Homo sapiens: one gene and its partners. The protein of the gene in region 3 purifies or fractionates together with the protein of the main gene of each other region. This does not show direct contact. Each region holds a gene or a part of one and is shown on either strand. Other genes may lie near its edges. The genes, in order: GALNT12, ZNG1C, SERPING1 and SELE.

Region 1 (3,569 bases), on a different chromosome or scaffold from region 3:
AGTTATGCAAATGCAGGGCAAGCAGGCACCCTGCCATGGAGCATGCAGAGCTGGCTGGGGCAGAGGCAGTGGACTGTGTTTCATCTGAAGCCCAAGACCTGGGAAAGAAGAGGCAGATCCCTCATCCACAATGGTCCCGGAGGTAGAGGCAGAGCAAGGATCCGGACCAGAAAACAAGTCCCTGAGATAAATCGCTATGAGGAAGGACACAGTCTGGGCTGAACCTCAGCCTCCGACAGACTCAGTGCAGTGGGTGGATGGGCCAGTGTCCCTGTAGTGTGTGGCTGAGACCCAGGGGAGCAAGCCAACTGAGCTGAGACTTCAGTGACTGCAGGCACACCTTCACCATTGGTCAGAGAGATGGGCCCAGCAAGGCCTCTGAGTGGGGAGGAAGATAGACATCTGTTAGGCTGGCGGTGGGGGGGTTTCCATGACCATGACATATGGTGAGAAAGAGTAGCAGCGGGGGCCTGGGCCACTCTCCAGTAGTCCTTCCATCTGGAAATGGAAGCAGAACAGACTCCCTGTTTTAGAAAAGGAAGCTTCCAGGGTGCTAACAAGAAGGCTCTAGAGGGAGGTAACAGACCCCTAACTAATAAGGCGGATGTGTCCCTGAGCAATAGCTTTAAGGTAAAGAACTGTGCCTTAACTTGTACCCTGTGTTTGTGGACTCACCCTACTGGCTACAAAGAGGAAAACCAAAACACATGGACAATGCCTGGCCTGTGACACCAGGTATCCCCAACTATCTATGTTGGTACAGTCCATCCTCATTATTTACTGGTTCTGTATCTGAATTTCCCTACATGCTATAATAAAATTGATTTGTAACCTCCAAATCAATACTTGTGGTGTTTTCTAATTTTCACACACATTCATGGACAAAAAATTTGAGTTGCCCAACACTTAACTCCCATTTCCAGGTGATATATAACAAGGGCACACACCGCCTTCTTGTTTCAGCTCTCATCCTGTAAACCAGTGTTCTTTTCACCATCTGTTGGGCACCACATTTTTTCCTGCTTTGTATTGGTGACTGCACCAGCTATTCTAGAATGTCCCCCAGTCGTAGTGCTGAAGTGCTACCTAGTGTTCCTAAATGCAAGAAGGTTGTGATGAAGAGAAAATAACACGTGCTAGGTAAGCTTCATTCTGGCATGAGTTACCGTGCTGTTAGCCATGAGTGCAATGTTAATGATGCAACGATATATGTTAAACAGGTGTCTTTGAACAGAAACACATAGAAAACAAGGTTCTGTATTGATCTGCTGACAAAACTGTGCCCCAAGTCTGGCAGGAACCTAACCCTGTATTTCCCCTAAGAACAATGGCTCTGTTTTCATGAATTCAGCATTTGTGGTGGCTTTATGCACTATAACAGCTGTAAATAAGAAGATTTGACTGCATATAATTATTATAAATGGAGGAATAAATTCTCCCCTTACTCGTATCTGAGCACCCAATTTATTCTCTATTTCTGGAACCAGATCGACTATGTTGGGGAAGCCACGATTAGCTGCTGTTGTTCAGATGAAGCCAGATGGAGTGCAGGTGGGCCGAGGAACTCACCAAGCGGGCACGGGGGTTGCGATGGTAGTAGAGCTCTTTAAATTCATCCATCCATACTTCAGCTGCACGAACACTGTTGGCCAGAGCCTTGTTGCGGGAGTAGGGAGCTTGCTTGGGGAAAACATGGCCAACATGGGAACATGGGTGTGTTTCCAGAACCCCACCACACTGCCAGATCTGCACACAGAGAAAAGGAGAGGCCAGGTGGTGAGCAGGGGATGAGCTGCGGGTCCATAGTATCTGCAGCAAAGAGGCCAGGCACACGCAAGGCATGATGGACACTGCCAAGATGCTCAGCCTCCATCGGGCAGGAGGCCACCTACCCGGCACACTCATGACACAGAATGTGGGTAAAGAGCAAGAAAGCAGCCCCCAAAACATATAAGCTGTGGGAACCAAGACCCCAAAGTCCATGCACTAAAGCTCATGCACTTGACTCACAGGAGCATCCACAGAGACCTCGCTGGCAACCCACTTACTCATTACAGAAAACACAGGCTTGATTACCTGATCTCCTAGCCACAGAAGATAGGAAAGCAGCAAGGAAGAAAAGAGGTTTGGAAGGGGGAAAGGAAGAGCGTCTAGAAACAGGTAGAGCAGCCTGACACCTAAGGAAGAGGCAGAGAGACCATTAAAAGCACACCCAAAGACTCAACAGGCGAAGGCATCTGAGCCCATCTCACACTGGGACTGACAGCCTTGAATATCTCATTTTCCCAAAGATGGGACAACCAAGCACAGCATCTGGTACTTATTACAGAGGGCGTGAGTCCTCGGTAGAAGGCCAAATTCTTGTTTATTCAGTTTTTATGAGGGCAGAACACCATATAAAATATTATTAAAAATCTTAATTTTCCACTGAAAAGCACCAACATTTACACAAAGTTTTGATGCTTAAAATGTAAGACTTCATTAACTGGAAAATCTACTGAAATGCTAGGAGTTTTCCAATACGGTTTTCACGGGCCATGTAGAGTAGCATCAGTAGGAAGGCTTGTTACAAAAAGCAGAATCTTGGTCCCACCCTAAAGCTATCAAATCTAGCTAGAATTCTAGATTGTGCTTGTGAATCTGTCTTTCTAACAAGTTTACCCAGCAATTCTTACATGTGTTGGCTGGGTGCAGTGGCTCACACCTATAATCCCAGCACTTTGGGAGGCCAAGGCGGGTGGATCACCTGAGGTCAGGAGTTTGAGATCAGCCTGGATGACATGGTGAAACCTCGTCTATACTAAAAATACAAAAATTAGCCGGGCATGATGGCACATGCCCATAATCCCAGCTACTCGGGAGGCTGAGGCAGAAGAATCACTTCAACACAGGAGGCGGAGGTTGCAGTGAGCTGAGATCGTGCCACTGCGCTCCAGCCTGGGCGACAGAGCGAGACTCCGTCTCAAAAAAAAAAAAAAGAAATTCTTACATCTGTCAAAGTTTGAAAGGCACTGTGCTAAATAAAGAGGCCACTTCATAAGGAATTAATCAAGTAAAGGCTCCAGAAGACAGGATCAGGAGGAACCTAACCCTGAGCAAGTCACCTCTCTCCTGGTTTCATTTCCTCCTCTCCATAGAGTGAGAGAGAACTATGTGACTCGCAAGGCCCTTGCTGGCCCCAAATCTAGAAAAAGTACACTTTTTAAAAAGCTAAAACAAGAAAGCAAGCATGTTTATAGGATATGCGTGTCATCATCTTTCAGGGTCCACCAGGCTCTTACAGCAAATCCCATCGTTCCCAAAGAGAGAATCAGTTAAGAACATGTCCAAAGAGAAGACTGAAATACTTACCCTAAAGGAAAATTCGAGGTTTTCTCCTCCCCAAACTTCCATTCCTGTATCATAAGACCCCAGATATTCAAAATATTTCTTACTCACAGCAAACAGCCCACCAGCCATTGTTGGAGACCTAAAAAAGTATGATATCCTTATTTCACTGTAGACAGCAGAAAACCATCACAGTTATCCAACTACCTTCCCACCACGAGCCCTTTCATCTGTTCATCTGT
Region 2 (3,569 bases), on a different chromosome or scaffold from region 3:
AGAGTGAGATTCTGTCTCAAAAAGATAAAAATAAATAAAAATAAAAATAAAAATAAACCAAATGAATGAAGTTTCCCTCCAAGTTTGTCATCTTCATCTTAGGAAATAGCTTAAAGTTTAATAAAGTTTACACATGCCAATTTTGTGAATATCAAATTCAACAGTTTGGAAACACAAGCTTCTAAATAAACTGTTTCACTGTGACAGTGTCCTTGAGAATACATGCCATCCAGAGGTAATTCTGCTTTATACTCAGATTCTTTCCATACTTCCAAAAAAGGATCAATATTAGACCTGTATAACAAATTACACTCTTTTACAGAAAATAATAAAATATCCAAGTCTCTCACCAAATTTTCAAAAAAGAGGAAAAGTGTAAGCTTCCAGATGAAAGTTTCTATAGCTTTCCCCAAATTTAGTACCACCATGAAAAAGAAATTCTTCACTCATTCAAGGCATACGACTAGAAAACTAATTTCCATGGCATCAAATTAATTTCCTCCTTTGGAGATAAAACCATGAGATCTTTTCCAAAGCATTAAAATCGCCAAGAAAAAAAAAAAAAAGAAAAAAAAGACCATTACCAGCATTTTAAAACTGAGTAAGAGAATGAAGTAAACAAAAAAGGGAAAGAAAAAGCTTCAAAAGTTCATTTTTCTCCTAATTTCTTGAACTCTCTATTCCAGAAGTACCTAATGTTTTTCTTAAAAGAGAGGCTTTCAATTTTTCCCTATGTCTAAAGGCTGCTTTAAGTAGCTTAAGACCAAGGACAGGAGAGTGAAAACGAAGAGGGTTTTGGCTCTCCTCGGTGGGGGTGGAATTGCAGCTACTGCTTAGGGATATTTTCCAGTGGTCAGCTCTTCAAACTCCAGTGAGTCTCATAAACAGGGTGCACCAGCCAATCCAAGTATCCAGTATCTACAATGCAAACTGTAGATACTATCCAAATTGACAGTAGATAGCTCAGTAAATAGCTGAGCAAACTGCAATGATAGCTCAGTCTTGAACTCTGGAAATAAATTTCCAAAAGCCTTCCCCAGTGGCACTTCAAACTCAAAAACGTTTACAAAACCAATCACATTTTCCAAACCTGCTTCCACCACTACCCGACCTGTTGCTCCTCCTTCCTGTATTTCCTATACCTCGGAGATTAGTCTCACATTGAATCTACCTCCCAAGAGTCATGTTGCTTTTAAAATCCTTCACTAACTCCTTGCTCCCTACAGAAGAAAATCCAAACTATGTATCATGGCATTCAAGACCCTTTGTGGTAAGTTCTCTATCTCTTCAGTCATACCACTTTTTCTGTGCTACATAATACCAAGTTTTCTAGCCATTCTAAAATATTCAAAGGTCCCTGGAATACAAAATCTTCCTTATACCTGGAAAGTTATCCCTACCCTACTCCATCTGTAAAAACCTTATTCATTCTTTAAGACTCAGGTCAATGACTGCCTTCTCGGTCAATATTTTCCTGACTCTTTTTCAAGAAAAGTTGAGCAATCATTCCCTCTATTTTCCTATTATTATAGAACTCTGTGCTTTTAAAATTCTTGTATTAATATTAATATCTATTATGTTGCCTTTTTGTTTGTTTGCTTCTGTTTCCCCCCAATGACTGATCTCCTTAAAGGCAGAGTTTTTGCCTTATCCATTGCTTATATAGTCCTTAAAATGCTATGAAATGCATAGCAGGCAGTTTGTCAAATTAATTTAACTTATTATTGACCAGCTGTGTTTTGGTTTTCCTCTGTTCAGTCCACTTACATTTCTAAAAATTAAGAAAAAGTCTAGAGAAGATTAAAATGACACATCTTCTAACCTGTTACTCCTACTTCTGAAATCTATGTGGTTCACTAGTACTTCCATTTGCTACTAAATCAACTTAAGTCTTACCACTAAGACGATGCTACACACTATTCCTTTTCCTTACTCTTAACTACTCAAGGTGAGCCTTTTTCTACACATGCTTATAGCAGTTTATTGTCAGTACTTGTCAGCTACAAAATGGTAAAAAAATTTTAAAAAACAAAAAATAAAACAAAACTTCTATAAGAGTGACTTTGACTATTTTGTTAACCATATCTCCGGGTTTTTTGTTTGTTTGTTTTTTTTTTTTTGAGACAGAGTCTCGCTCTGTCACCCAGGCTGGAGTGCAGTGGTGCGATCTCAGCTCACTGCAAGCTCCGCCTCCCGGGTTCACGCCATTCTCCTGCCTCAGTCTCCTGAGTAGCTGGGACTACAGGCGCCCACCACCAGCCTCAGCTAATTTTTTGTATTTTTAGTAGAGATGGGGTTTCACAGTGTTAGCCAGGATGGTCTCCATCTCCTGACCTCGTGATCCGCCCACCTTGGCCTCCCAAAGTGCTGGGATTACAGGCGTGAGCCACCGTGCCCAGCCCAAATCTCCAGTTTCTAAACTGGTAAGCTCAAGTTGCTATGCCTCAAGGAATTTGAGAGAATATTTAATATAAGATTCAGGACCCAATAGTAAGAATTCTACTCAGGACATCTGATCTTCATTGAAAAGGATTCTAATCCAACTTCAGTCCTCATAGCAAGGAAGTACTATTTCAGAAAGTCCCTAGATTCTCAGATGCATTGGCAAGCACCATACACTGAAGAATTCACAGAAGATTTTAGTCACTTGCTCACTCATCCACTTGAAGTAAGAAAAATCAATCACTGCATGTTTATTGTTCTATAATAAAGCAAATGTTAGAAATAAAAGTTAGAAATGTCAAACACACTAAATTGTTACATAATAAACTAATCAAGACACAACTTTTATTCAGGACATGGATATTTCTGAAATGAAAATAAAAGAAGAGAATTGACTTAAAATGTTTATAAATACGAATATTATGACAGAACCAAAGCTATTTATGAGCATTATTTTTAAAAGCTTGTTTAAGTATCATGCACTTGTCTGTGTGACATTTTGTAAAGCGGAGAAAAATTAAGGAGAAAGGAATTGTAGAACACTAACAGGAAGAGGACAGATACTGAGGAATGGCTCATGGTATAAGTGAGATTATCAGAGACTCTCTACAATGGAATTTGAAACGCAGGGAGCACATTTGGTGTATGGTTGTAGAGGACTTACACTAAGGGCATTCTTCTGCTACCTCTGCCAGCAGATGAGTGGCTCCTGAGAATGCATACCAAATTAATTCCCCAGCTGTTCACATGCATATAAGCAGCTGCTGCTGTTACTGCCTAATACTTATGGCAGTCTGTCAGCACCTCTAATCTCTGCCATAGCAGACAAGCCACTCACCTAAGGCCTCTGCTGTACTTCCAAAGAAAGAATTTCTCAAGTAGAGACTGAGTGGAACTAGACTGCCAGCTGTGAGCCTCAGAGCTCCTGGCTGCCTGTTGCTGAGTCTATCAGCTGCTGAGCCTTTCTCACCAAAAAAAAAAAAAAAAAAAAAAAAAAAAAAAAAAAAAAAATGAGCTTAATAAAATAACCCTGCACAGAAATTTTCTGAAATTAAGATAACATTCAATGGAAAACAGAATTTAATCTACAGAAATACACTTCACAGATGTTTTAGGAACAGAACCTA
Region 3 (3,569 bases):
CAGCACTTTGGGAGGCCGAGGTGGGCGGATCACGAGGTCAAGAGATTGAGACCATCCTGGCCACCATGATGAAACCCCACCTCTACTAAAAATACAAAAATTAGCTGGGTGGTGGCACGTGCCTGTAATCCCAGCTACTCAGGAGGCTGAGGCAGGAGAATTGCTTGAACCCGGGAGGTGGAGGCTGCAGTGAGCCGAGATCATGCCACTGCACTCCAGCCTGGTGACAGAGCGAGACTCCATCTCAAAAAGAGAAAAAAAAAAGAAGAAGGACTTTCAACTGGTGACCAGACAAAAGTATGTAAGAAGTGCAGGGCCCCTGGGTTTAATACAGGGGTTGTCAACTCGGAGTGAATTTGCCTCTCAGTGGACATTTGGTAATGTCTGGAGACATTTTGGTTGTCATAGCTGGCAGGGGGCAAGGAGGATGTGCACACAGTGCTACTGGCTTCTAGTGAGTAGAAGCTAAGGAAGATGCTAAATTCTACAATGCACAGGACAAAGAATTATCTGACCCAATATGTCAATAGTGCCAAGGCTGAGAAACCCTAGTCTAATAGGATATGAGACTGTCATTAAATGGTATTATGATTGAGGCTGAAGGAACAAAAAGAATCTAGAAGAATGCAGAATTCAACTGGGCAATAAAGAAATTAACTGAAAGCAATCAATTGTCGGAACCTGAATAGCCCAGAAGAAGTAGATAGTAAGCCAATTTCGACTGAAAAGAGTGGACATGGGGTCCCTGTTGATGTAGCACTCAAGTTGGATATACTCATTTGAGTAGCATGTGCCCTTCAAGTCCTATGTATGAACCTTGAATCTCTGAAGAAAAATTTACCATGCTGTGGTCTTGAATTTTCAAGCCAGTAACCTCGGTGTACCTGAGCCGGTAAATCTCACCCCCTTCCTTGGGTAAATATCCTTAAGTGCCAGGAAGATTTAGAATTTAGTATAAGAATGACAAAAGAAACCAACTTCATCATGTTAAAACCAGGTGTTAAGTTCAGGGTAACCTGTATGTTTGTTATTTAAAATAGTGATTGTAATTTTTAAGAGACTCTGACATGCTAGTTTTATGCTTTTAAGCAAAGTTGTAGGATAATTTCATTAAATGTGAGAATGATATTGGAATGTTGGCTAGAAGTTAATTCACCCTTCAAATTTAATTTTCAGTTTACAAGTGAGCTTTAGGTGTTAGGATGATATGGCCAAGCACAGTCGTAATTACGACCTGTCAGGTATTAGATGTGTTTAAAAAGAAAATCAGCTGGGTGAGGTGGCTCATGCCTGGAATCTCAGCTACTTAAGAGGCTAGGGTGGGAGGACTGCTTCATCCCAAGGAGCTTGAGGTTACAGTAAGTGAGGATTGTGTCACTGTACTCCAGACTGGGTGATAGAGTAAGACCCTGTCTGGGAAAACTACATAAATAAATAAAAGAAAAAAGAAAATCGAGCATATTAAATTTTTAAAGGGAGCTTAAAATGCTTATGGGAATACTAATTATGTTTGTAGATAGAAAAAATGGTTTAAAGGAGTTTAATCTGTTCAATATGGCAATTAATTCAAGAACAAATGAGAGTGTTTTTATATAAAAATCACCCTATTTTTTTTTTTCTGAGACAAGGTCTCACTCTGTCGCTCAGGCTGGAATGCAGTGGCATGATCTCGGCTCACTGCAACCTTCGCCTCCCGGGTTCAAGCGATTCTTCTGTCCCAGCCTCACAAGTATCTGGGATTACAGGCGTGCACCATCACACCCGGCTTATTTTTTGTATTTTTAATGGAGATGGGGTTTCACAATGTTGGCCAAGCTGGTCTCGAACTCCTGACCTCAGGTGATTCACCTGCCTCGGCCTCCCAAAGTGCTGGGATTACAGGCGTGAGCCACTGTACCCAGCCTATTCTTTTTTTGTGTTTTGAGACAGAGTCTTGCTGTGTTGCCCAGGTTGGAGTGCAGTGGCGCGATTTTGGCTCACTGTAACCTCTGCCTCCCAGGTTCAAGTGATTCTGTGCCTTAGCATCCTGAGTAGCTGGGATTACAGACATGTGCCACCATGCCTGGCTAATTTTTGTATTTTTAGTAGAGACAGAATTCCACCATGTTGGCCAGGCTGGTCTCAAACTCTTAGCTTCAAGTGATCCACCTGCCTCAGCCTCCTAAAGTGCTGGGATTATAGGCATGAGCCACTGCGCCCAGCCAAATCACCCTACTCTTAATGTAGCAAGTTCAGCTTAAAATTAAAAGGCATAAGTAAAATTTTAATTTTGCATTTGTTAGTACATTAAATTAATTATCTGTTTAAAACCTAAGGAACTCTAAATAGTGGCTTTTGTGCACAAAACTACTCCTCCTCCTTTGGCTTAAAAAAAAAAAAAAAACTCAGGCTGGGTGCAGTGGCTCACGCCTGTAATGCCAGCACTTTAGGAGGCCGAAGACGGACGAGCACTTGAGGTCAGGAGTTCATGACCAGCCTGGCCAACATGGTGAAACCCCATCTCTACTAAAAATACAAAAATTAGCTGGGAGTGGTGGCAGGCACCTATAATCCCAGCTACTAGGGAGGCTAAGGCAGGAGAATCGCTTGAACCTGGGAGGCAGAGGTTACAGAGAGCTGGGATTGTGCCACTGCACTCCGGCCTGGGCAACAGAATGAGACTTTATCTCAAAAGAAAAACAAACAAACAAACAAAACTCATATTGGCTTGGGGAGATAGAAATTACTCTTCATATTATACCTGCTTTGTATTTGAATATTTATTATTGATATTATATGTCCAGAATGCTCACCTTAACCTATCACCTCACCTCAATGGTTTCAACAGTCTACTCCCAAGGGATTTTTACAATGATTTTTGGTTTAGAGTTTTGTGTGAAACTTTAAAAACATTTTTAGAGAGGAAATACTTGTTCTTATAATTCGAATAGTTACATTTAAACCTAACTTGTTAAGTTCTTAATTCCTACTTTCCACCTAACATCTATGGCTTTGATTAAATAGCCATTCCAATTGATTTGAAAAAAATCTCATATTTATACCTCCCCCAACGTATCTTGAATTTGAACAATGCTCTGGACCTGTCACATATATTCACTCTTCTGTGCCTTATACAGGCTGTCCTGGTTCTGCTAAATGAGTCATGAATGGTCAAATACATTAGATAGGGATGGATAGATGGGTGGATAAGTCCATGAGTGGATAAATAACTGAGCAAAGAATGGTCAAAAATAACCTCCTCAGCTGGGCGCTGTGGCTCATGCCTGTAATCCCAGCCCTTTGGGAGGCTGAGGGTGTGGATCACTTGAGGTCAGGAGTTCGAGACCAGCTTGGCTAACATGGTGAAACCCCGTCTCTACTAAAAATACAAAAATTAGCCAGGTGTGGTGGCGGGCTCCTGTAGTCCCAGCTACTTGGGAGGCTGAGGCAGGAGAACTGCTTGAACTCGGGAGGCAGAGATTGCAGTGAGCTGAGATCATGTCAATGCACTGCAGCTTGAGTGACAGAGTGAGACCCTGTCTCGAAAAAAACCCTCCTCTATGAAGTCTTCCAGCCACTTTTACTGAGTA
Region 4 (3,569 bases), on a different chromosome or scaffold from region 3:
TTTTTCCTCTAAACTCTGGATAATTATTATTCATTCTTATGACAGCAACTGTGTAATCAGCTGTCGAAACACTGTGAAGGGCAAAAGAAAGAAAGCCACAAAATATTGTGTTTCTGTGCCAAGATTTTACAGCGAGCAAGGGAGAGTTAGAAAAGGAATTCTGAGATTTCAGAGTCTTGGTCTCTTCACCTTTGCTTGGAAGAAAATATCCTTTCCCTTCATTAGCCAACACTTTCTTGATCCTGAGAGTAGGAAAGGGAACACTGAGTCTTTTCAGTTGAAGGCCGTCCTTGCCTGCTGGACTTTGATCTATTGAAGTGGTGATGGGTGTTGCGGTTTCAGCCATAAAGGCATCTGGCATAGTAGGCAAGAAGGGCCAGAGACCCGAGGAGAGTTATCTGTCTCTGTTAACTTCAGTGTATCCCTCTAGTTCCCCAGATGCACCTGTTTCTGTAAATATAAACATGCATGTCATCAGAACACTTAATATTCTGCATACTGATCATGACAACAAAATGTACCTTCTAACACAGACACTCTCACTAGGATAGACCATGTAGGAACATCGAATTCTATTCAGTTAGGACAGTGATGATGTCTACATATTATACCTCTGTCAAAACCTACAGAATATACAACACAGCACAGAGTGAATTCTAATGTAGCCTGTGGACATTAATGAATAATAATGTATCAATATTGGCCCATCAGTTGTAACACTAATATAAGATGTTAATAACAGGGGGAATTGAAGGGGTGGTGGGGAGATATGTTGGAACTCTTTGTGCTTTCTGCTCAATTTTTCTGTAAACTTAAAACCGCACACACAAAAAAAGTTATTTTAATTTTTTAAAAAGTATTCAGAGGGACTTGACCTTTCCAAATTCTCTCAAAGCAGGTCGGAGTAGTTAAGAACACAAATTTTAGAACCAGACTGCCAGAGTTTGAATCCTGGCTACACCACTTACTAGCTTTGAGATTTCAGACAATTTACTTAACTTCTCTGTCTCATTTTCTTCATCTGTGTGATAAGAAATAAAGTAACAGGCCAGGCCCAGTGGCTCACGCCTGTAATCCCAGCACTTTGAGAGGCCAAGGCGGGTGGATCAGGAGTTCAAGATCAGCCTGGCCAACATGACGAAAAAATACAAAATCTCTACTAAAAATACAAAAATTAGCTGGGTGTGGTGGCAGGCACCTGTAATCCCAGCTACTCAGGAGGCTGAGGCAGGAGAATTGCTTGAACGCAGGAGGTGGAGGTTGCAGTGAGCCAAGATCATGCCACTGCACTCCAGTCTAGGCAACAGAATGAGACTCCATCTCAAAATTAAAAAAAAAAAAAGTAAAAAGAAAAGATAAGAAATATAGTACCAGCCCCTATCTCAGAGTTCCTAGCTTAGAAAAATTCCCAGAATATAATAAGTGCAATGTAAGGGTCAGCTATCTTCATTATTATTATCTATCATAAATGAAATTACACAATAAAGCTAGATCCGTTTCTTTCCTCTCCTTCTACAAAAAATAAAGCAACTTTCCAGAACAATACCCAGGTGATGATTTCTCCCCTGCTCCCTCCCTAAGATATTGGCAAGTTTGGAGGGTTCAAGGAGAAACAGAGCATGTAGAGAAGATACCTCTCTCATAACCATTTGTGATTTACAAGTCTTACCTGATTCTTTTGAACTTAAAGGATGTAAGAAGGCTTTTGGTAGCTTCCATCTGATTCAAGGCTTTGGCAGCTGCTGTGGAATACATGAGAACACTAGGTAAAGCACTGTCTTCCAACATGAAGAGAGAAAAATATGTGGAATGTTCAATGGCATGCTTTGTATAAGAATGCAACTTACCTGGCAGGAACAAATTTCTTTGCTGCAAAAGAAAAGACAAACAACCATTAATTCAGACTAAATGACTTTTAAGGATATATTAAATCCAGATACAATATGACTTAATTCATCAAGTGTTGCAAACTCGATGCTTCAGGGCCTCTGTAATAATCAGAGCACAAGCATGGCTCTGTGGCATCTAGGGTAAAATGCAAAGTGCACAGCCATCCAAAGGGCATAGCAGCTTCCTAATGCCAGCAAATAGCTACGGGGTCATCTTGCCCAATTCAGCTCCCAATTTTTCATGAGAAGTCCAAAGTCTTAATTTAAATGTGAGATTTCCTATTTTGTAAACGTCAGAACTTAACTCAAAAATGTTTTAAGTACTCTTAAACATGTAAGCCAAACAAACCATGAGTGTAGTCAGATGTGCTTCCATATTCCTTATGAGAGACTCTCAAATTTAAGCCTGTACTCCAAATAAATCTCCTTAGGAAGAATTTTATCCATTTTCCTTAGAGTGCTCATCATGGCAGTTCCATTGCACAATTCCGGGAGGCATCATATAATTCAACATGAATAGCACCCCCTGGAGTTGTACAATATTAGGCACGACTAACATTTTTATTTCCTGAAACACTTCCCACACTGAGTTGTACTACTAACTCTTTTCTTAATACTTCTGCTTAATTATACTGCATTTTATCCAGATTCTAATTATTGTTTAAATCAGTAAGCAAGACCATGACTTATCAATGAGAAAGAAATGTATTTTCAAAAACATTTTTGAAGTACATTCATAAACTTCCTCACCTTTCCGTAAGCATTTCCGAAGCCAGAGGAGAAATGGTGCTAATGTCAGGAGGGAGAGTCCAGCAGCAGAAAGTCCAGCTACCAAGGGAATGTTGGACTCAGTGGGAGCTAAGGAAGTAAGAGACGAAGAAAGGTCATGAGGAAGAATTGATGTTAAAGTCTCTCCGTCCTGTCCCTTTGGCCTTTTTTCTGTACATTCATTACTAGGAGCAGAAGAGCTATCTAGTTTAATACAAGAAGCAGAGATGTGGCATTACAGGCCTTTGAGATCTGCTCCAAGCCACCTTTGAAGCTATTTCCACCATTGGCAGGCAGAACTCTAACTTGCCAAGCTCGTTCACAATACCACACCACACCTTGGTTAATAAACACTGCACTTGCTTGCTCTCTTGCTCTCACTCCCTCTTGTTTTCCATTTCCCCTTTCTCCTCTCCTCTCTCTGTCTCCTTTTTCCAGTTGTCAGAATTCTACCCTTTCCATCAACATGCAACTTCTGTTTTTTCTCTATCCCCATACAACTTAATATTCACAACTTGTCAACCTGGGCGAACTTTCTGGTTTGGATATAATGAATAGTTGATTACTGTAACAAGATAGCTCCCCCTTTTTCTTTTTAATCACCAGACAACCACCATCAATCAATGCATCACCTTCACAGGTAGGTAGCAGGCCAGACCAGTGTCCTGTGGCTCCACATGTCCGAGCTGCAGAGCCATTGAGCGTCCATCCTTCAGGACAGGCGAACTTGCACACAGTGCCAAACACGGGCTCCCCACTGCAGCTCATGTTGATCTTTCCCGGAACTGCCAGGCTTGAACATTTTACCACTGCAAATGTTAGGTACACAGGCAGAGTTTCAGAAAAATCTACTGGAAAACTTCCAAAACTTGCTTAAAAGTCAACAATGAATGTAAAGTGTAAGCGCTACTT

What was found.
Region 1: the proteins of SERPING1 (region 3) and GALNT12 purify together in Homo sapiens (affinity purification with mass spectrometry; one large-scale study listed by BioGRID and IntAct). This does not show direct contact.
Region 2: the proteins of SERPING1 (region 3) and ZNG1C purify together in Homo sapiens (affinity purification with mass spectrometry; 2 studies listed by BioGRID and IntAct, with this or other methods). This does not show direct contact.
Region 4: the proteins of SERPING1 (region 3) and SELE purify together in Homo sapiens (affinity purification with western blotting, with the first as the bait; one study listed by BioGRID). This does not show direct contact.

What each region holds. Positions count from the first base shown.
Region 1 is NC_000009.12:98,835,149-98,838,717, reverse strand, and holds part of GALNT12 (polypeptide N-acetylgalactosaminyltransferase 12), read right to left. Parts: intron 3,470-3,569; coding exon 3,352-3,469; intron 1,747-3,351; coding exon 1,570-1,746; intron 1-1,569. UniProt on the Homo sapiens protein: Catalyzes the initial reaction in O-linked oligosaccharide biosynthesis, the transfer of an N-acetyl-D-galactosamine residue to a serine or threonine residue on the protein receptor.
Region 2 is NC_000009.12:68,269,434-68,273,002, reverse strand, and holds part of ZNG1C (zinc-regulated GTPase metalloprotein activator 1C), read right to left. Parts: intron 1-3,569.
Region 3 is NC_000011.10:57,607,631-57,611,199, reverse strand, and holds part of SERPING1 (plasma protease C1 inhibitor precursor), read right to left. Parts: intron 1-3,569. UniProt on the Homo sapiens protein: Serine protease inhibitor, which acrs as a regulator of the classical complement pathway. Forms a proteolytically inactive stoichiometric complex with the C1r or C1s proteases. May also regulate blood coagulation, fibrinolysis and the generation of kinins.
Region 4 is NC_000001.11:169,724,060-169,727,628, forward strand, and holds part of SELE (E-selectin precursor), read right to left. Parts: intron 3,467-3,569; coding exon 3,290-3,466; intron 2,748-3,289; coding exon 2,640-2,747; intron 1,870-2,639; coding exon 1,848-1,869; intron 1,743-1,847; coding exon 1,685-1,742; 3' UTR 1,670-1,684; intron 451-1,669; 3' UTR 1-450. UniProt on the Homo sapiens protein: Cell-surface glycoprotein having a role in immunoadhesion. Mediates in the adhesion of blood neutrophils in cytokine-activated endothelium through interaction with SELPLG/PSGL1. May have a role in capillary morphogenesis.